2 separate regions of the Homo sapiens genome follow, and region 1 is linked to region 2. The links come from fine-mapping of genetic effects on gene expression. A gene starts in region 2. The other region holds a variant in brackets. All regions are shown on one strand. Distances are from middle to middle. Region 1 holds the start of LINC00276 (long intergenic non-protein coding RNA 276). Region 2 holds the start of LRATD1 (LRAT domain containing 1).

Region 1 (11,368 bases), 230 kb before region 2:
ATGTTGTGTAATACACTGAGTAGAATTTATTTCAAAGCCTGGTTTCCATCTACACTATGTTTTAGTTGACCTTGGAGTGTAAAAAAGAATCATGGACATACTGAATCATGGACATACTGAAAAAGAATCACTGACATACTGAAAAAGAGATACAGTAGGGTCATCAACTATCTGTTGCCTAAAATGAGTTCACCAGCAAGAAATGCCTCTTACAAAATTAGAGAAGAACAAGGCCAACCCCTGCTCTGTTTGGACCATCCCTAAAAATAAATGTCATGAGCTTAAACACTGCATATTGAAAAAGAACATTTGCAAGCATGCACCTCTCTGTTGGTGCTTTTTACATGTGACTCATTGAGGAATGCATTGTCTTCAAATTGTTCTGCTTTTTTTTAATATATCTGCAACTTTTTTATATTTCAGAGGTGATGTTTCCACCCAAAATCTAACTGTGATTACTGCAGGCTACAAACTTATTTGGTAATTGTTTTGCTTCTTGTAATTTCTTTTTATAAAACCAGGTTCTAAACTCCTCTCACTTCCCATCATCAAATTGGTTCAGTTTGTTTTAGAAAACATTTTGGTATTTATAGCTTAATTTCTGCTGAAATTATACTGCACCAAGTTAGAGTTTAATTCATTTCTTTAAAGGTTGCTACTAGTTTAAACTTCATTATGTTTCAGAGGTAATTTGTCCACCAGATTTGTTTTAGACACATTGTTTTTAAATCACAGGTGCATTTTTAAAAATCAAGGTTTTACATAATTTCAAAAAATTGGGTCATGTTACATTTACTTTTTGTACACAGTTCAGTTTGATTCTCCTTGCTATTTCTAAAAGGACTACTATTCAACAGAGCTCTCAAATCAATGCAACTCATTCAGGGAAGAGGTATTTATGCTCTATCTTTTGCATCCAGCTACAAAGTAGAACTACAGATTGCTACAGGAATCATAATACTACAGAACAATTACATTGATCATGCAGTAGATATAACTGGGCAGGTTTGTTGTTTGTTTTGTTTTGTTTTTGAGACAGAGTCTCACTCTGTCATCCAGGCTGGAGTGCAGTAGCACCATCACAGCTCCCTGCAGCCTCGACCACCAGAATCAGGTGATCCTCCCACTTCAGCCTCCCAGGTAGCTAGGACTACAGGTACACTGCACCATACCTGGCAAATTTTTTGTGTTTTCTGTAGAGAAGAGATTTTTCCATGTTTCCCAGGCTGATCTCAAACTCCTGAGCTCAAGCAATCTGCCCACCTCAGCCTCCCAAAGTGCTGGGATTACAGGTGTGAGCCACCACACCTGGCCTAATTGGGCAGTTTTAATTTCAAACTAAAAGTTACAAATTTCACTAAGCACTAATAAATGCTAAAACAGCAATCATTCCCAAAACCAAAACTAAACTATTTTAACTAAAATAACATCTTTTTAGTTAATAATTCCCCTGGCTGTGCCAAACAATGAAGGATCATGCTTGAGAAAAGAGAAGAAGAAAAAAGCACTGTGATTTGATGAGATGTGTGCTACCCAACTCAAACGCAGTTTTGCCTCTTTGCTGTGGGTGCTGGTGTAAGGAAAGAATCCCTCTGGGCCCCATGCATATCCTCATATGTATCCTCACAAGCCTGGCCCAGATGATGTTCCAGGTTCTTTCCTAATGACTTTTTACAACTATTAGTTTACTCTTAAATAAAGAGCAGAATTGGGTTCATTTCAGACCTCTGCTTTAGATCTGCTGAGGAGGAAGTTTCTTAGTCACATAAGTATCTATAGCTAGGTGTATTATCGCCACATTTGGTATTAAGTTGTGACTTAATAACATAATGAAAATTTAGAATAGATTAGGTTTATTAAATAAAATGCATCGGCCTGTTATGTCAAGACTGTCTCTGAAACTGCTAGGATTCCGAGCAATTGTTTGATGGTATACTCTTACTTGAATGTGGAATTGTTCCTGATTGGCTTACAAAATAGCTCCCCACCGTTCAGAGACCAGGGAGCTCTATTAATGTAGCTCTGGGAATGTGAAAGGTCCTACCTGCCAAGGCCTTCACTCTGACCACAGTACCTTCACTCTGACCTCCATCGGCAAGATGCTAAAAGCTGCACGGAGAACTATGTTCTCCCACTTCCCCAGGCACCTCTGATAATTTATGATCTCCCCTAGGGCAGTTTATTCCATGCAGCTTATCTTTGTTCCAAGTGTTTTTCATTTGAAAATTGCAAACAGATTGCTAAACTAACATTGCAAGTCTTTAGGGTCACTTGCCCACACCCTAAAGATCTCTACCATTACTTACTGGTTATTGCTGCTGAATGATGCCTCCTTTATCTTCATCCTGCTCTTCTGAGTGAGTTTTCTGAAATCCTACATCTTGACTAGACTCACTTACCCATTGGCAAGTCTGGGCTCCCCAAATCCTCCCCTTACAGCCTGTGCAATTTGTAAGCAGTCACCCTCCCTTTATCCTCTTTGCCCAAAGCTTCATGTGACAGATTAAATTCTTGTAATCGCTTTTCCTGTGTCATTCCTCTAATCCTTTTACCATTCTATTTTGCCTTTGTGGTGTTTATTTCTACCATTTTCAAGTTACTTTACTTTGTATGGCAAATAGCAACAGATGCAATGTTCAAATAAGGCAGAGACCTGAATAGGAATTTCAGAGACTCTGTGATAAGGTCAGAGCTCCCAGTAGCATGCTGTGTGACCTTGGACTAGTCAGATATGAGATACCTTCCAGGATTCACTTCAAACCTCCCTGTGTCTTTAAAGAAGCACAGAACAGATTTCTCATTCATGGAAGAGTTTCACATAGCAAGTGGTAGATGCAAATGCTTGGAAATAAATCGTAGGCACTTATTCCAGCCGTAATTATTTATCTTTAATAGTTAATGTTTTCAATAAATGACCTTATGGATTTCTCCATATCAGAGTTGACTTATTTATTGATCCTGATTATTAATATGCATTTTGGTATCAGCATGTCATTTCCTTGAGGGATCAAAGCAAAAGAACCCCAATAAATGTAGACTCATTCTCACAACCTTGCTGAAGTCCATCAAACTAAGGGAGGGAAGTAAAAATGTTTAAAAAAATCCTGGAAAAATTAGTCTGCTTCATTTGTCTAAAACCAGAAAGAAAAAAGTACTAAAGAAAAATGAGAGAGAAAGAAAACCATATTGCCATACTGATCATTCAAGGTTGTTTACCAGAGCTTTCACACCTGCCTCTAACCACTGCCTCCCTCAAGCCCTCCATTTTCCAGGGATCAGAGGAGGGCAAATGAGATCATATATTTGAAGTGTTTGGTCTCCTAGTAGGGAAGGGGTCATATAAATCCTCAATGTTGTCACTTACTATTCTCCCCATGCCTTTGACCTTAGCTCACTGAAAGTAATTTATAACTGGTTGTAAGGGCTCCTGAGAACAGCTTCATCCACCTCAGGGGGAAAGAGGCCCTAGACAGGGAGCACCTGGCAAGTCACACTCCCTTGACCACAGGACTCCCACTCCGCTGCTTGAGTAAACATAATTATCAAGACAATAGCAGCTGTGACTTGTCTTCTGGTGCCAAGAGGTGAGTTATTGTCCGCCAAGGTGGGAGGCTAAATCAGAATGCAGGCTTCCCTCCCCACCTGCCCACGTTTACTCCAGAAAGGGGAGTGAGGGGGAGTGACTTGTGCTGCTTCCGAGTCCTATCCTATAAGCCAGCTCCACAGAAAAATGTTGCTGCCATTGTTTTTATTCTTTAGGTTCAGGGAGGCAAGAAGGGAAAACAGATGCAGAAACTTCCTTTGAGAAGGCTGATAAAATGATTAACAAGCAGTCAAATTAAAAAAAACTTAGTTATATCAATTACCTGCCTCATTTTTTGTAATCATCATTTTGTTCTGAGTCATCCAGCCCAAAAACTCCATCTCTACCTATAGCCAGTTACAATTCTCTATCAGTTGTGCCTCCTAAATAGTATCTAATTCATTCCTTTTTTTCCGCTGCTGTTGCCTTTACTAGGAGCCTAGTATCCTGATTTTAAGAACTCTTCAGAAAACTTCAGGCTGGGCATGGTGGCTCATGCCTGTAATCCCAGCACTTCGGGAAGCTGAGGCAGGAGGATCACTTGAGGTCAGGAGTTCAAGAGCAGAGCCTGGCCAACATGGTAAAATCCCATCTCTAATAAAAAAAAAAAAAAATAGCAGAGCTTGGTGGCATGCACCTGTAGTCCCAGCTACTTGGGAGGCTGAGGCAAAAGAATTGCTTGAGGGTGGGAGGTGGAGGTTGCAGTAAGCCAAGATCACACCACGCACTCCAGCCTGGGTCACAGAGTAAGACTCTATCTCCAAATAAATAAATAAATAAATAAATAAATAAATAAATAAAAAGGATCAGCCTAGAGCAAAGATCCTAATATTGGTACCAGCATATAATGAAGGGACAGCTA[T/C]GAAGAGGACATGAAAGCCTGAGAGCATCCTGCTGTCATAGACACAGGAGTACAGGGATGGGAACTCCAGCCTGAGGATGAGGAAGAAGGTGTTTAGTTATATCACTAACCAGACACCTGCCTAAAGTGTTTCCTTGGCTCCAGGTATCTGTTCAGCATGAGGCACTTCAGCACACACAATCTAATCTCCAAATATTTTTTCAGTCTCACCTTTTATTCCCCCTCCCACTGCAGTCATCCTATAATCTAAATAAAATATAAAGCAGAGACTTCAAGCCTTTGCTGCCCCATGTCATACCCATTCCCAGGAATACTGTTCAACCCTTACACAATTGGCAAATCCCATTTGGTCTTCACAATTTAAAGGACAGCTCCCTCTTTTGAGATCTTCTTTCTCTTTATAGGCATCTGCCTCTGTACATCAACAAATGGTTTTTCATCTAAATATTATGTTTTTACGTGACAATATTGTAATTATTTATTTTTTTGTTTTCCCCACTAGACTGGGTTTTTCCTCCAGGAAAACCCTGGGTTTTAATAATCATTTTATTTCTAGCATCCAGCACTATGACTGAAATATGTTTGTATAACACATATTTTACTGAATTCAAATTAAACTATATAGAAGGAGGAGGTTACAAGGTGGACATAAGTGAGAATGAGAGAAAAAAATAAGCAAAAGAAATTTAGGAATTAGAGATTTTTTACTCATTATCCTAAAATGTGAGTTTATGTTTCATAATAAGAAGGAGAAGGGAGATGTGATATGATTGATGGGATAGGATGGAATGAAATGGGATGGAATGGGATGAGTACATCCTTTTCATTATACCTCACCAAAAATAATGCTATACTGTATTTGTGCAAAAAAAATGTGTGTATCACTTACTATATGTCACGCATTGTTTTAAGGGTTCAACACACATTAAGTACTTTAAATCTCGTAACAGCGCAATAAAGTAGGTACAATGGTTTGGAATCTTTTACGTTCTTTTGACAACTTCTGACAACTTTTACGTTATCAATTACTAAGAATCCACCAGAGCTTAATTTCTGGGGATTATATCTATAAATATTTTACATATTAGAAATTAAAAACTGCAGAATATAAAAGAATTCATATGTATTAATTTTAAATAATAATATACATCTTAACATAAATGACATTTTATTTTTGAAAAACCATTTTGCAAAATAGAAAAATTATTGAGAGAAGTAGCATTGCTTTACATTTTCCAAATCTTTAATGTCTAGTTACTGGAATTCAGCTAAATTTCCACTTCTGCTTCTGCATGCAATCTGTTGTGATGTGTCATTTTTGTTGAAGTATATGAAGAAAATCTGGCCTTACCTAGGAATGTGGTTAGAAAGAGAAGTTTTTAATAGGCTTCTCACATAATGGTTTATATTTTTTATATACCAAAACTGACAAGTTGTAGTTTCTTAAAGGTTAGTAGTTGTGTGGAATCTGAAACTATATCAATAATCGTTTTCTGCTCTGTTACATTAAAGTCCTTTGATCTACCTTATAGAGTAGAACTATTACTCATGTTTGATTTTGAACACCATGTATTGGTAATTTGAAATGTATGGGCTCATTAAATTATGAAGATCTTTCAAGTGTTGAAACATAGTATCAAATATAGCATCCCCCAAAATCATAGCCATTAATATCACCACCAATCTCATCTGATATATCCTTAAGTATTGGGAAGCTGCCAAGCTCATAGATGAGTTTTCCAAAACTCTTTCACTTCAAAGCTTGAGTTTTATCACTGGCAACAAATATTACCAATTTTTTTTTTTTAGGTAATCAGCTCACTTTATTCACTTTTGAGACTATGCCTGCCAAATACCAAAGTACAGATGAGCTTTGTTCCATCTGTTCATTGTTCTTTTATATAGAAGTAATATTAATGAAAGAAAAATGGCTAGTTTAGCTCACAATGGAAACAATCACAAGAGCTTTTGTAGAGACAACCGTTGTGCTCTACTGTGCAGCAGAAATGCTTTATAAGGACTTCCCATTTGTTAGACAGAATTTTCTTAAAGTGTACTTAAGAGGTTGAGATCTAATACTATTAATATTTACTCTTTTATCAAAAACATTCTTACATTAAACTCTTTTTTTTTCTGCAAGTGTGTGATGGTAAAGAAGGAAACAACTACTAGTGCAGTCTAGTGCCACCAACCTTTTGCAAAATCAGTACAAAAGTAAACACAGTGAAGAAGGCAAAATGTGTCTGTGTTGACTCCTAGATCCATTGAAAGAATTTCAGGGACCCCCAATAGTCTACACTTGATTGAACTTCTAACTTAACACATTTTAGGGATAAGGAATTAGAGTTCATGAGTTTTCACTCACTATCACACAGCTTGTAAATGGTGGACACAGAATTCAAACTCAGGCATCTAAGCTCTATAAGATCTGTAGTATGTACTGTTGTTTCACCATATCATGCTTTCTTTATTCTTTGGATGATTCAGAGCATTTTCAGAAGCAATAATCAAATATGTGATGTTCTTATCTGCTATCTTTAGAACCTAACCCCCAGTGAGATGAAACTCTACCATAAACATGTATTCAACAAATGACAGACAGAACAGTTCTGTAGGCAGATGCCCAGACATGCTAATTTCTTCAGAAGAAAGCCATAAAACAGAAAGGAGCATGGAGATTGTTGGGAGCTTAGAAGAGGCATGAATGGTTTAACTCTGCTGATGACATAATCGGGAACCTGCCCAGTTAGAGGCTTGATCTCCAACCTAGGGATCTTAGGTCAACAATCTCTATCCAGGCTTAAACTCCATCCTGACCCCAGGGCATGTTACTACAAAGAGAGTCATAGTGGACAATTTGCTATATCAGGGACCAGTCATCAGAGGAGAGTTTCTTGTCTTCCATGACCAATTCTACCTGCCTGTTGTATTCACCTTCCTCATTAGTATTTGTCTCCCTCTCTCGACTTCCCAAAGACTGTGCTCCTCTGGCCTTTCACTCTTACCATCATGCGCTCCTTCTTTACACTGGATCATTCTTAACATCTTGTCAACTCCATCTAGTTTCACCCATCTTACAAAACAACAAAACACAAAACTTCCCTGAAGCCACATTGTCCTCCAGGTCCTGCCCATTTCTCAGCCTGTTTCACAGTCAAACATCTTGAAAGAGCTATGTACACACTCTGCATCCACCTCCTCACCTTTCTGTCACTGCACAAACACTCTCCTCTCCTACAGACTGTATGGAAATGACTCTTTCCAGGGTCTCAATCACCTAGTGTTGCCAAACCTGCACTCATTTTACTCAATGTCCCTGGTGCATTGAAACTTCTTGAAACACTCTCTTCTCCAAGCTTCTGTGATCCTAATCTCTATTGTCCCCTCTTACTCCCATTATCAAATGCATCTCCCTGGCTTATGCCAGTGTTTCTTAGCACTCAAGCTTTGCCTACATTACAAGGGGATCTCATCTATTTACACAGCTTTCAATACTCTCTGTGCTAATCCTTCCAAAAGCTTATCTATTCCTGACCTCTTCTTAGAATTCAATCTTGTTTACCCAACTATTTCCTGGATGATTCCATGTCTTTGTCTCATTGGCATCTCAAACTTAACATATCTGATAATGAATTCTTAATTTCACCTCTGAAAACTTTTGAAAACTTTCTTCACCATATGTCCTCACAATCTCAATAAATGGTGCCACCATCCACCCAGCTGTGCAAGTGAAAAATACGGGAGTCATTAAGTTACTTAACCCTCTGCATCACTTCCAAAATTAAATGTATTATCAAGGACTCGTGGTTGTATTTCTAAGGAAATGGGAACGTGTGTATCCATGTGTGCGTGGCCAGGGGGCAGGGGGAATCTGAATTCCGCCTACTCTTCTTCATCTCCACTGCCACCACCACCCTTGGTCAGACCATTGTTTCTACCCACTGTCACCTGTTCTGTTACATGACATCTCTAACTGGTCTCCCTGCTCTCAGTTTTGCATTTCTTCAATCTCTTTCCATTTAGCCACCAGTGATTCCATAAGCATATACATTGGATTAATATCGCTCCACTACTTAAAAGTCCTCAATTTATTTTCCATTTTAGCATCATATTGAGTCATGTTACCCATTATCAAGGAGGCAACAATTATTTAACTTCTTCCTAATTTCTAGAACACGCCAAGACATTTTGTTTTAGGGCCTTGGTCACACTTGTCCCATCTGCCTGGAAGGCTCTTCATTTAACCCAAAGCTTTGGCTTCTTTCTACCCCTCAGGCCTCAGCTCAAATGTAACCTACCCAGTGAAGTCTAATACTTTATTCTTCATCATGGAAACACATTCATGTCTATTTTGTATCTTGTAATAATTTACTTATTTGTTAGTTATCTTGTTTATTTTTGTTTCCTCCAGTATCCTTAGCTCTATTAACTCAGGAGCTAATACTCTGTTTGGTCTGCTTCTTTATAACTGAGGTCTTTCACAAGACTTGGCTCAATAAGTACGCATTAAGCCAGTGAATAATATTCTATCCTATCTCGTGATGTCTAGTCTACTGTGTGAAATTTAGAGAAAACTTTCCTCTTAAAAAATTGTATACTATATATGATGGTCTAAAATAGAATCAGGGAGCCTGGTGCGGTGGCTCACGCCAGTAATCCCAGCACTTTGAGAGGCCGAGGTGGGCAGATCACCTGAGATCAGGAGCTCGAGACCAGCCTGACCAACATGATAAACCCTTTCTCTACTAAAAATACAAAAAAATAGCTGGGTGTGGTGGTGCATGCCTGTAATCCCAGCTACTCGGGAGGCTGAAACACAAGAATTGCTTGAGCCCAGAAGTTGGGGGTTGCAGTGAGCTAAGATCGTACCACCGCACTCCAGCCTGGGTGACAGAGCCAGACTCCATCTAAAATAATGAATTAATTAGTTAATTAAAATAAAATAGAATCAGGGTCTAAACCCAACCACTGTTAAAATTATGGTTGGGTTTCAAAGAGCTATATGTTGACTTTTGGATTTCAAATGTTCATTGTTACTCTGATAGGTGAGTTTAAATTTGTTTTAATATGTGTCACACTCCTAGGTACTTTTCTAAATACTTTGTATATTTTAATTTATCTTTTCACCCAATAACCTCATGGAATAGTGAAAGAAACCAAAATGTTCACCCCAAAATATTGAGGATTGCTAATGACACTGAAAACTCAGGGAAACACTCTGCCTCCACTTCTATTTGCCTGATCACAGGACATAAATCCTTCCTTACTGAAAACAGCACTTGTGTGTTGTCCCAGAGAAGGCACCAGCAGGCACCAACAGGATCTGGAAACTGATTTTACCATCTTTCCACATTCTCCCACCTTTTAAAAGACCAAAATTGCTCTCTCCTTTGCCTTGCCACTAAGTAGGATTTCTGGCTCTTTGTGAAAATACTATTTAAGCAAACCCTCTAAGCTACCACCTTGAGAGAGAAATACTTTTGAGTAGAGGCCTTTCCCACACAATTGGTACAGTGTACATTAATGTATTTCTGCTTGTTTTTGTTTTGTTAATCTGACTTTTGGTTTCAAGAGAGTATCTCAACTGAGAACCTAAAAAGGAAAAAAATATTATATTTTATCTTCTACAATAGGTATGTATTTTATCCCTATCATACAGATGAGAAAATTGAGGCACACAGGGTTTTTTTTGTAAGAAAGTTGATTAAAATGACATAACTAGGAATCCCGAGAGGACCCACACACCCTTGGAAAAAAGCAGACTGCTCTGCAGGACCCGGGAGACACTCCAAATACTGTGCTGGTATCCACGGCTGAGAGACCCATAGATGGTTCACATCACAGGACTCTGTGCAGACAGCCCCCAGTACCAGCTTGAAGCCAGTAGATTTGCTGGGTGGCTAGACCAAGAAGAGAGATAACAATCACTGCAGATTGGCTCACAGGAAGCCACATCCTCAGGAAAAGGGGGAGAGTACTACATCAAGGGAACACCCCATGGATCAAAAGAACCTGAACAACAGCCTTCAGCCCTAGACCTTCCCTCTGACAGAGACTACCCAAAAGACAGGGAACCAGAAAATCAACTCTGGTAATATGACAAAACAAAGCTCTTTAACACCCCCCAAAAAATCACACTAGTTCACCAGCAGTGGATCCAAACTAAGAAGAAATCTCTGATTTATTTGAAAAATAATTCAGGAGGTTAGTTACCAAGCTAATCAGGGAGGCATCAGAGAAAGGCAAAGCCCAATGCAAGGAAATCCTAAAAAACTATACAAGAAGCAATGAAAGAAATATTCAAGGAAATATATAGCATAAAGAAAAACTAACCAAATCTTCAGGAAATATTGGATACACTTACAGAAGTGCAAAATGCTCTGGAAAGTCTCAACAATAGAGTTGAACAAGTAGAAGAAAGAAATTCAAAGCTCAAAGACAAGGTCTTCAAATTAACCCAATCCAACAAAGACAAAGAAAAAAGAATAAGAAAATATGAACAAAGCCTCTAAGAAGTCTGGGATTATGTTAAATGACAAAACCTAAGAATAATTGGTGTTCCTGAGGAAGAAGAGAAATCCAAAGTTTGAAAAATATATTTTAGGGAATAATCGAGGAAAACTTCCCTGGCCTTGCTAGAGACACAGACATCCAAATACAAGAAGCACAAAGAACACCTGGGAAATTCATCACAAAAAGATCATCACCTAGGCACATTATCATCAGGGTATCTAAAGTTAAGACGAAGGAAAGAATCTTAAGAGCTGTGAGAAAAAGCACCAGGTAACCTATAAAAGAAAACCTATCAGATTAACAGCAGATTTCTCAACAGAAACCCTACAGGCTAGAAGGAATTGGGGCCCTATCTTTAGCCTCCTCAAACAAAACAATTATCAGCCAAGAATTTTGTATCCAGCGAAACT
Region 2 (11,368 bases):
GGGCCCAAACAAAAGGCATGAACTATCCTAAAATTGGGAGAGAACACAGAGAAAAATGAATGCTAGGTGAAGATATCTTTGTATAATCCACAAAAAAATAAAATATTAAACCAATTAGTGCTAAAGGTTTTACCCAGGGAGCATTCATGAGTCTTTAATGGTTCGCTGATAAGAAGCCACAAAAGACACTTTAATATGAACACTCAGTTATGGGAAGGAAATTAGAGAACATGGAAATGTGGAAGCCAAACTTGGAAATGGGCACTGAAGAGGAAATTGATAGCCAGAGTGTCAATGCATGCATGCGGGTTAAGGGAAGCAGGATACCAGCTGCAAGAAGTTTACTGGGAGGGGTTTCCCACGCCATTGTTGTGGTCTACAAAAGTAGAAAGCAGGTAAGATGTTCAGAGAGCTGGGTAAGTTAGTCACATGGAAGCTGTGAAAATTTCTAGAACAAATAGTAGGGAGATATGGGGTAGTACCTAGAGGGGAGAGAAGTGTTCATTAGTGATTTCTTTACATTCTAGGTGATGTGAACCTGCTGAAATGCTGCAGGGATTTCAGGCAAGTTAGCCTTGGCAGTGAGAACAGATACAAAGAGAGAAGGAGGTAGGAGGTGTGTGTGGGGACGGGGGAAGTGGGGGAGATTTTTATTGTTCTGAGATAGGTCTAAAATGAAGGACAGTATATCAGTCAGTACAGGCTAACTGCTATAATAAATAACCACACAATTTTGGAGTGGCTTAACCCAAGAAGATTTATTTCTTCACAGTCCAATGCAGTTTTCTTGGGAGGGGAAATTATCAGCTCTACACAGTCATTCAGGAGCTCCGGCCTTCTTCCATCTAGTGGCTCCTCCATCTCTTAGATCCTAGGAGTCCTACCATGAATCCTCTACAAATGGCCAAATTGGCAAAAGAAAGCTCTGGAAGATTGTGTTAATAATAGTTTCAGTTTCAGGAGCTTTCAGGAGCGGCACCTGGGAGTGGCTTATTCTACTTCCACCCACATTCCATTTGCCAGAACTCAGTCACAGGGCATGGGGCAAATGACTGCAGGCATGCTGGGACTTGTCATTTAGCTGGGTGCCCAGAAGGAAGGGAAATGGGATTGGTGAAGCCATATAACCATCTCTAATCCAGATGGACACAGAGTATTCTTTAGCTCAGACCAGGGTGAGTATGTTAACTGCCTAAGGCAGTGAAGGACAGGAGATGGAACAGTTCATTTCATTAAAGGATAAAGTGGGGCATATAATTTTCCTGAACCCTTACTCCAAGCTCCAAGGCCAATTTTAAAGGATGACAGTTTGAGCCAAGGACCTGTTCAGTAAAATTTGGAGTAAAGCTTTTCAAATAGTGCCAAAGAAGCAACCAAAAACAAAAAAAAAAAAAGAGAGAGAGAGGATACATCAGATGGCACCAGCAGAAAAGATCACATACATTTGATTGACTCCTAATCACTCCCCTGTAACTTTTTTCCCCACACAAATTCCTCACACCGGAAATGTTCATTTAAAACAATTAAAAATCCTTCAGGGAACCCCCACCCCACTCCCTGCTACCACATGATCAGCCCAGGGGCTCACATGCTGAAATCTATAGAGAGCTTTAGGTCTCAGAGTATTTGAAGGATAGGCAGGGATCTCACCACCTTAACACAGAAGCAGTCCTACACCCCAATCAGGGAAAGCCTTGGACACTATCTATTGCTACCTTTAGCCTGGGGCAAAGGAGAAAGAGAACTGCACAGCTGTCCTAAACAAGTAGGGTATGAGACCTCTCTCTTCCACCAAGAATAATAATAAGATAGCCTTGATTGAAAACTCACTGTGCGTCAGACACTATGCTTACATGTATGAACTCACAACAATTCAGTGAGGTAACCACTATTATTATCTCTTTTTTACAGATAAGGAAGTTTCCTGATGCCCACAAAGTTTAAATAACGGACTCGAGGTTACCCAGCAATAAATGTTGAAAAAGAGTTTAAATTAGTTGGCTTTCAGAGTTTGTGTTTTGGACAACTATATTCTACTTTGGACAGCACTGTATTTTCTCATTGTAAAAGCAGGCAGGATGGAGTAAAAAATAAAAGTCAAAACAATTTGAAAACAATATTTTGTGATGAACATAAAACATTTTCTACAATCAGCATCCTTCATTTGATTGTCTTACTTTATTATCTGGTAAGTGCCAAAAGAAGACAAAGTGTAGATGTATTTTCCTTAGTTTACTTTTAGCTCCCTTTATTTCAAGCCTCACAGTCAATGTGTTCCCTGCCTTATGTTTCAAGGGGGCTCCAGGGTATTTTTTCTCCCATGTGATTACAAAAGCAGTTAGCCGTTTAGCCTAGCAGGGGGAATGAGAGGAAACGGAGAGGCCAAAAATTTTAAACTTTAGGCACTATATCTCCAATAACTGACAACATTTTATCTTAATTATGCTTTATAGTATTGGAATACTAAACAAAGAGGAACGACCTGCTTACTCTGTAGTCTGGAGCAGAATGAAATAGAACACGTAGGGCAGAACACAACAAATGAGTTGTAAATGTCTGTGCACAAGGCTTGATCTTGGGGATGGAGGGAGGATATTTTTTAAGTTATTCAAACGCTGAGTTGCTTTCAAAGAGTTCTTCTCAGACATCAACAATGAACTCTTCAGATACCCTCATCCCAGACAGCCCTGAAGTCCAGTTTATAACAAGACCAATAACTCACTCCTTATCTCTAAAGCTACTTGTTCAATTCTCTTGACTTCAGGGCCAAAATGAGTTGTTTATTACTTATGGCAAGTATAAAAAAGGCCATCTCAACCTGTGGTCAGTTCCACGAATGGCAACTTGTTTTCTGATAACTTGCATGCACATGGACAATAGCCAAATTTCCAAAAAGATTTAGGTACATCAATTGTATACCGATGGTCATTTAAAACCATTTTTTCCAGCAATATTTTAGCATCTAATTTGATAAATCACTGCATTTGGAGGCTGTGGGGGTGTACAGAGACCTTCAGAAAGCAAACATAAACTGGAGGCTTGGCGGTTTGAAGATATTCAAGCAGAAAAGTCTAGCAAAGAAAAAGGGGGTTGTAATATGGATCAGTCTCCATGTAACCTTGAGCCAATCATCTAACTTCTCTGAAACACCAGTTTTCTCATTTTATGAAACAAGATTTTATTCAATAAACACTATAACTTAGTGAAAGACTGGATCTGGTATCCCGTAGGCTTGGATGGATTGCTGGTACTAGTATTGGAGCTTTTGTTTCCCTGTTTGTTACAATTCGGATATTAGTGAGTACCCTACAGAGGAATAATGATTAAATTGTCTACTTAATTTACTCTTAAGTGTCTGACCACGTATAAGTGGTCAATACAGGCTGTTTTCATTTTTACTATTACTGATGGAACACACTGCATGACTAGCATTGGGAAAGAGGCCCAGAATACAAGGTTGTGCAGAATGCAAAGTCTATTCTCAAGGAATTCGCTTTGTAGGGAAGAGGTGGGGGGTTCAAATAGGAAGTATCAAATTCCTCATTGGGAAAGAAAAGAGGCTTCATAGAAAAGCTGCTGGAGCCCAGGCTTAAAGATGAGTAGCATTGGGGCCAGAACCAGATGTCTAAGAACTCTTTGAGGCTTAATGTTAGGAACTTTTGAAACTATTGGTCTGGAATGTTGTATATATGAAGTTCATTTTTTCAGCATCCAATATTCAGAACACATTCATTCATTAACTTTCCATCCAGAAATGTAATCATTAACTACTGCTGGAGCCTCCTTTCCCACAAAACCAAACAAAACTTGCTTAGCAATCCCAATTCTGAGGCTTGGAAAACACTTTTACATCCTACTCTCTGCTTGCATGTATGAACTCACATACATGAGTTGTGAGGTACTCCTCCTATATTCAGAAAATTGGAGGCCAATATCATAGGCACAGCCAGGGAATGCACCGGCCAAAGCTCAGGCTTTTGGGTGGCATTTGACACCAAGCTCCTTTTAAATCGGGCATCAGCTCTGGGTCAGCAGCCTCACTCCAGTCAAAGAAGAGGAGCCAAACGTCGCAGGAGCAATTTCAAAGACGTCTGGGGAACGAAAAGGGTCTTCGATCCAAGGACCAGCCTAGGGGCCATCGGGAACCAAGGCTCTGGGGGATCCCAGCAGGGCCCAGACGCCCGCCTCGGGCAATGTCGCTGCCTGCCCCGGGCCGCTCGCAGTGCCTGGGCCATACTGGGGTGCCCTGGGGTTTCTTCTCCATACCCAGACTCAGCTTCCCCGCTGGAGTCTGTCTTCCTGGAACACGGAACGCGGGCGGGCTGTGTTCTCAGTCACAATCAGCTCGGATGAGCTGGGGGGCGCGGGCGCAAGCGGGCATCGGCACCTGGCAGAAAGCGCCGCGCCCCCCGCGGGTGCGCACACCTCCGCTCCCCGGGGCGGCGCGCGGTCGGGTGTGCGGGGTACGGGGCGGGGCGGAGCGGAGCAGAGCAAAGCGCACAGGAGGCCCGCCTCTGCTCCCCTCCCCCGCCGGCGAAGATTGACACAGCTCGAGCACCCGCCCCAACCAATGAGCGCGTCCTGGGGCGGGCCCTGGGACCGGCTGCTCCGGCTACTTAGAGTCGTCGGCGCGGCGGTGGGAAAGCAGAGCCGAGCCGGGACTGTCCAGTGGGAGCAGGCGCCCCGGCCAGCGCAGACCTGGAGGCGCACGGGCGCCGCACCGCACGATTCGGCTCGGGGTAGAGCGGAGCCGCAGCCCCACGCGCAGCCCAGGACCCACTCGCCACCGCCGCTTCCTCAGCACCCATGGGGACCAGGAGACTTTAAAGGAGTTTGGGGTTTCGGGAGCAGGGAAATCACGGGTAGGGAGAAGCGGCTTTCTTTGCCTTGGAAACGGTTTTTCTTCATCCGATTGTTTGGATCCTGTGCTGGGTAGGAGGGAGAGGGGTCTTTGGGCTAAAAGTGAACCTCTCTACACACACACGCTCCCACCCACACCCACACACATACACTGCACTGGCTTTCTCCATCCTTCCCCTGCCTCTTTGTTAGGTTATTTTAGACAGAGCAGCCTCGCCCTGGCGCAGTCCCATTGGCCCTGATGGGGACAAGGCAAGAGAAGTAAGGGGCAGAGTGCACCTGCCTGTGAGGGCAGGTGTGCCCGGGTGCTTGGGCGTACGTGCAACGGCGAGCGTGCAAGCGTGGAGCTGAAATTGTGTACGAATGTGTGGGGTCTAAGTGTGCCAGTGTGTCGTCGCGAAGGTTTGTCATTGTGGGTGTATGTGACATACACCAGTATACCAGGCTGCCAGTGTCTGGACTCCCAAGTGTCCAAAATGTTGCTGGTGTCAAGTGAATGCCTGAGAATGTGTCTGATTGTCATTGTGCGAGCCGCTGTAAGGGGAGGAAGGCAACCTAGTGCAAAACTGGGAGGTGGGCTGGAGAGGGTGGGGACAGAAATGGGAGCTTGCTCCCAGCTCACTGGCCTTAGGCTCCCTTCTCCCTTTCAGCCCACCCCTCGGTCCTTCCTGGGTGTCCGTCTCCCACACTGCCACAGCCAGCACTCTCCTCCCCACCGGGACCCCGCAAGCTCTCCAGCCAGCCTGGGTGTTTTCTTCTGGGAGTTGGACCGAGTTCCCGGAAGGGGTCGGAGGCTGTGTGGTGGCGTCTGCTCTCGCCTGACCTGTGGCGGCTTCTCCGCCCCTCGTACCCCTGGGGAGGCACGGAGGACTCGGCTGGAAAGGGTGACTCCGGTGAGGGCACGTAAGCTAGCCGGCAGGTCCCAGGGGCACTGCACGTCTTGGGGAGGGACACCGAAAGGGGCAGCCCGGACTCTGACGGTGTCTCTGCCTCTCTGTGCCTCCGCAGATCCCCGCTCCTGGCCCTCGCCTCGCCACCTCATTGATGGGCAACCAACTGGACCGCATCACCCACCTCAACTACAGCGAGTTGCCCACAGGGGACCCGTCGGGGATTGAAAAGGACGAACTGCGGGTCGGGGTTGCCTACTTCTTCTCGGATGATGAGGAAGACCTGGACGAACGCGGGCAGCCCGACAAGTTTGGCGTGAAGGCCCCCCCGGGTTGCACCCCCTGCCCGGAGAGCCCCAGCCGCCACCACCACCACCTGCTGCACCAGCTGGTCCTCAACGAGACTCAGTTTTCCGCCTTTCGGGGCCAGGAATGCATCTTTTCCAAAGTGAGCGGTGGCCCTCAGGGCGCCGACCTAAGCGTCTACGCGGTCACCGCGCTGCCAGCGCTCTGCGAACCCGGCGACCTGCTGGAGCTGCTGTGGCTGCAGCCCGCGCCGGAGCCGCCCGCGCCCGCCCCGCACTGGGCCGTCTACGTGGGCGGCGGGCAGATCATCCACCTGCACCAAGGCGAGATCCGCCAGGACAGCCTGTATGAGGCGGGCGCGGCCAACGTGGGCCGGGTGGTGAATAGCTGGTACCGCTACCGCCCGCTGGTGGCCGAGCTGGTGGTGCAGAACGCCTGCGGCCACCTGGGCCTCAAGAGCGAGGAGATCTGCTGGACGAACTCGGAGAGCTTCGCCGCCTGGTGCCGCTTTGGCAAGCGGGAGTTCAAGGCGGGAGGGGAGGTGCCGGCAGGCACGCAGCCCCCGCAGCAGCAGTACTATCTCAAGGTGCACCTGGGAGAGAACAAGGTCCACACCGCCAGGTTTCACAGCCTGGAAGACCTCATCCGCGAGAAGCGCCGTATCGACGCCAGCGGCCGCCTGCGAGTGCTCCAGGAGCTCGCCGACCTCGTGGACGACAAGGAGTAGCCGCCTAGGGGCTGCCGGCCCCTCTGCCTCCCCCGCACCTCGCTCCCTTCCCTTCCCCGCACCCGGACTTCGCAGTCAGCGGTTCTCAACCTCTGCCCCGCCCCGCCACGCGCGTCCGCCGCCGGTGGCCCGGGCCCGGGCTGCACCCCCGCATCCCCAAGCCAGCGGCAGGAAGTCTCAGGAACTGCCCCAGGGCCGAAAGGGCGCCGCTGCGAGCGCCTGGCTGACAGCCACAGCGGTGGTGACGGTGCTGGGAGACCCCGCGTGCGCTTTCCCCTTGAGATGTAAACCGGGAACGGGGAAGGGGCTGAGGGGAGAAAGGACATGGCCTTCCCCGCGAGTCCATGGCCAGTGACTGTGGCCCGACTCGAAAACAACCCTCTTCTCAAAAGGGACCATCACCGCCCCGAGCGTGCGCACACAGACCGGTCGGAGGCGAGAACTGGTCTCTACAGGGCACAGTTCAGCTCCTCTGTGGATGCGTCCCCAGATCGCAGGATTTCCAAGAAATCGAGCCTGTCCCTTGTGCACTTGGGAATAATTCCCCAAGACAGCACTTCGGGATTCCGGGTTATCCTGAGGCTGCCCGGGACTTTTCCAGCTCTCCAGCCCCAGGTCTCCTGACATTGTGTTCCAGGCTGCGGGCTAAGCCAGACAGTGTTTGCCTCCGGTTCTTTCCACCGTGGGAAGCGAACGCCACCCCCACCCGCCTTTGCCTGCGAGTCTCCCTCGCTGGCAGAAGGGAAGCCGGCCCGGTCCCGGGAGGAAGATGGCGCTGCGAATTCGGTGAGGACAGCCGGCCCCGCCCCCGACAAGGAGCTCGCTCGTTCACCTGGTGTCTGGGAACTTGAATGTGTGAAGGGCGCTTATTGTTCTGAACCCTTGATTGCTCCCTCCTCGGGCTGCATTTCAAAAATAGTCATATTTTTAAAGGAGTTGGAGGAGAGGGAGGGGGAGGACATGGCACCATTCCAGAAACCAGCATTGTTACAACACCATAGCCAGTATATTTAGTTTGGCTTTTCCTAACATAGAAATCTTCAAAGCTGGGGAAGTGGAAATAAAGTTTTAAAAATGAGAGAGCAGTTTTCCAACTATGTCAACAAAGCCTATCGTGTTGATGTTTTTATTGACCATTTTAGCAACAGGCTAATAAAATTTCAAATTGAAATTTTTATTTTCATGGCTTTAATCCATGATAGTTTAAATACTGGGGGCCATTAAGAGTGGATGTAGCTAAGAGCTTAGCTAACATTGCCTTTTCACTCTATTTTTCTCAGATATTGTAAGCATTCTGTTTTTCAATATTGTAGTTAATTTTTTGGCTTTCAACAGCAGCCCTAGTAATGGTGGAGTTGTTAATTAATGTGTATATTGTACTGAATTTCTGTCAGTTAAGGGGTTCACTGCTTTGGTGGAAATTGGTGGAAATTGCTAGCAGGTTCCACGATGTTTATTTTTTTCTCCATGTTGTATATCATTACCATTTCACATACGCGTTTCTATTTTTCTTCCTCTCCTCCTGATCTCCTTAAAAATGAATCTAGAGTTGGTGGCTTTTTCCCCCTCCTCTTTGGCCAGTTCCACAGTTCAGTTCTTCCTGAAAACAGGGATGATGAACTTGTAGGATCAGGACAAATGTGTGTTTTTCAAAAACTTAAGGCTGGGTGTGAAACACCTTCTGTGGACAAGGATTTGTAAACTTCTCTCCTCCCTCCAGCTGCGGCCCCAGCCTAACTGATAGTTACTTGATTCAGTGTGCTAGACACTTAAATAGCATCTATGTCTCTTTCAAGGGAATTTGTCAAATAATGCTGTTTAGCTAATTGTTGCAAGCAATTGCATATTAACAGCTGTGATTTTGTTGGACAGCAAGTATTATGGCCAAAGCCAGTTTCTTGGCATTTCAAAAATAATGCAATAAAAACTAGTTGAGGTTAGCTGAGGCTGGAAATGCCTTTTTCATGGTAAATGATTCACTTCTATATTTTTCTTTCTTTTTCTTTTTTTTTCTTTGGTTTTCATCCTGGATTCATCCCCTGATCTTAAATCAAAACGTCAGATCAATGAACTATGAACTAAAGTATTTTTCTTAAGCCTATTGAGTGATTTATTTTTTAAAAAATGTTTAAATGCATATGCTTTTCTTTCAGCACAAACAACAGCAAAAACTTTTGTAATAACTAACTTACCTTTGCATGTATGAAGAACTGAGTCATTTATTTCCCTAACTTACTCCTCTTTCAAGTAACAGGTGGCAGATCATAAAATGAATTCTTTATTGTATCTACACACTCCACATTCTTTACTGTGTCCTACTACTGTATCTTGGCTCCCTGCTGTATTAAACACCATCTTAAGCACTTGTTCCTGCAGGACTCCTTCTTGACATTTTGTCTCCCCCTTCAAAGTCACTCAAAGAGTGGGACTTCATCAAAAGAAATGAATTAGTCTCTATCACACCGAATACTAAGATTTATTTCCTCTGATGGTACATAGATTTCTCTCTCACTAAGAGGGTCACTCTCATAGAGGAATGTCTTGTCAGTTTTATACTTGCTGAGGCTAGACTGACAATAAAAATGAGCTGGGCAGTTAAATTAGCATTTGTTACTATATTGGCCTATAAAGGATCAGGTTGATGATAATACCTCTAAAAATATGCAATAATAAAACAATAGTTATGAAAGAAACTTGAAAGGTTTGCAAGGTTTCTCCTATCCCTGTTAAAATTATCATTTATTATCTCTTTGTCAGTGTTAGTAAGGTAACCCATGACAGAATAATTTGAGTGATAGTTCATCATGCAGAGGATATGATCAAGATATTACCTAATGGTTTTATCCTGAAAAAGGTGTATACTTTTAGGGCACTGTTAACAATGCGAGTGAAACCAAGATGGTGCAAGTTCCCTTTGCAGATGGCGTGGGCACACTTGATTTTTATTATGAGTGAATGTAATCTTTCTGTATTTTACCAGAGTTACAGCAATTACCTGAAAAGTTTCCTAACATTTTAATAATGTTAGGGATTTCGTTTTGGTTTTAGTTGTCCTCAAGAGACAACAGGTTCACAGTAATTTCCATGATGTTGGGTGTGGCTAAGCTGGGGATTGGTTCTGTTCCCCCTGCTCCCGTGTAGAGAAAAGCTATATTTATACTGCATTCTTTCTCAACTTTCAGGTAAAACAAACTATGATTTAAAAAAAGAAAAAAGAAAAGACAGGTACTTTTACTTCAAAGAGTGCTTTGCTACATTTTTATTTAAACCAAAAATCAAATAAAATAAGGAGGGGGGCTGGGTATACTTTAAACAAAACCAGTCCTGAAATGCTGTTATTCTCAAAGTACATTCCAAAAAAAAAAAAAAAAAAAAACTATAGAATTTACGTATGTTACATTTTTAAGTATGAGTTAAATTGATATAAAGTGTTCCTCAATATTTAATAATGTAAGCTGTTGTCATGACAGTATTTTTTAAAAATAATAACGTATATTATAGTTACGAAACACTTGTGCCAGATTAGAACATCAAGCACAGAAGCAGCTGTATGATTTACCTGTTTTTTTGAAACTTTAATGTTTACCTTCCCCTATGTTTAATTTTTCTGTGGTGAACACTTTTGTTAGAACATGGCTTTTTTATTTTTCTTGGAAAAATATGCTATTAGTATTTACAAAATAATTAATTACCTGAATAAGCAGTATATACTAAAAGTCTTCAAACATTACTTTATTGATTACTTATGTTTTGTGGTGCGCTTTCAACATCCCTAAGAGTTAAATGTCTTAGTCATCTAATACATGGAACAGGGTCAAACTTCAATGAAATTAATACTTATTGCACAATCATAATATAGCAACCTAATTTTCTTTTATTTATAGGCATATCTTTAAAGCTTTCTTCTCTTTTTTGAACAAATGAAGAGAATCCAGTTAGTTTTTGCCTTTCAGAGGTGATTTGCCACGTGCACAAAGGGTCTGTAGGTGAAAAGACAGGCTTTTGGGTTTCTTGAAACATCAAAAACTGAATTTAGAGAATGGTTATCTAACACTCAAGTCAATGTTTTTTTTGAAATTACTAGCTATTGGTATAATATACATATATGTACATGTATACATATACATACACACATATGTACATTTACACATATGTAAGTATACACTCATATACATATATACACATGTATATATACTTGTGTACACATACATTTTTGCCTATAGCTAGCAATTATTTCATTCAGATACACACACACACACACACACACACAGGCTACTTAAAATAGAGAGTGACTTGAGATATACAAAAACAGGAAGAAAAGCCCTGGAGGTCATATAGCTAATGTATAACTGCACAGCAAGCAGCTATGTCTAAAGCTAACAATAAAAAGAAAATGTGGGAGTTGTGCAATTAGTTTTATTCTCATTTTTTGGAAGAATATGTTCCTGGTTTCTCTAACTAAAAGGAAAAAATTCAAAGGAAAGTTGTAAATATTAGGAAGTAACTGAAAAATAAGAAGCAAGATAAAGTGGGGAGGCTATGAGATCATATAATGAGCTAATAAACTTTTCAACAGGGGACACCT

Evidence for each region. PIP is the estimated chance that this variant, and not a neighbour inherited with it, causes the effect. A credible set is the group of variants that fine-mapping cannot tell apart.
Region 1: its variant is the best candidate, but not a certain one, in a credible set for the expression of LRATD1 in lung (TOPMed, PIP 0.89).

What each region holds. Positions count from the first base shown.
Region 1 is chr2:14,398,537-14,409,904 of GRCh38, forward strand. It overlaps LINC00276 (long intergenic non-protein coding RNA 276), which reads right to left and starts at 2,422. Exons shown (of 4, transcript NR_103814.2): 1 at 2,307-2,422. RefSeq lists an enhancer at 3,267-3,824. The variant T/C (reference allele first, on the strand shown) is at 4,446.
Region 2 is chr2:14,628,076-14,639,443 of GRCh38, forward strand. LRATD1 (LRAT domain containing 1) reads left to right here and starts at 4,642. Exons shown (of 2, transcript NM_145175.4): 1 at 4,642-4,862; 2 at 5,869-11,368. The coding sequence starts at 5,905. The coding sequence ends at 6,783.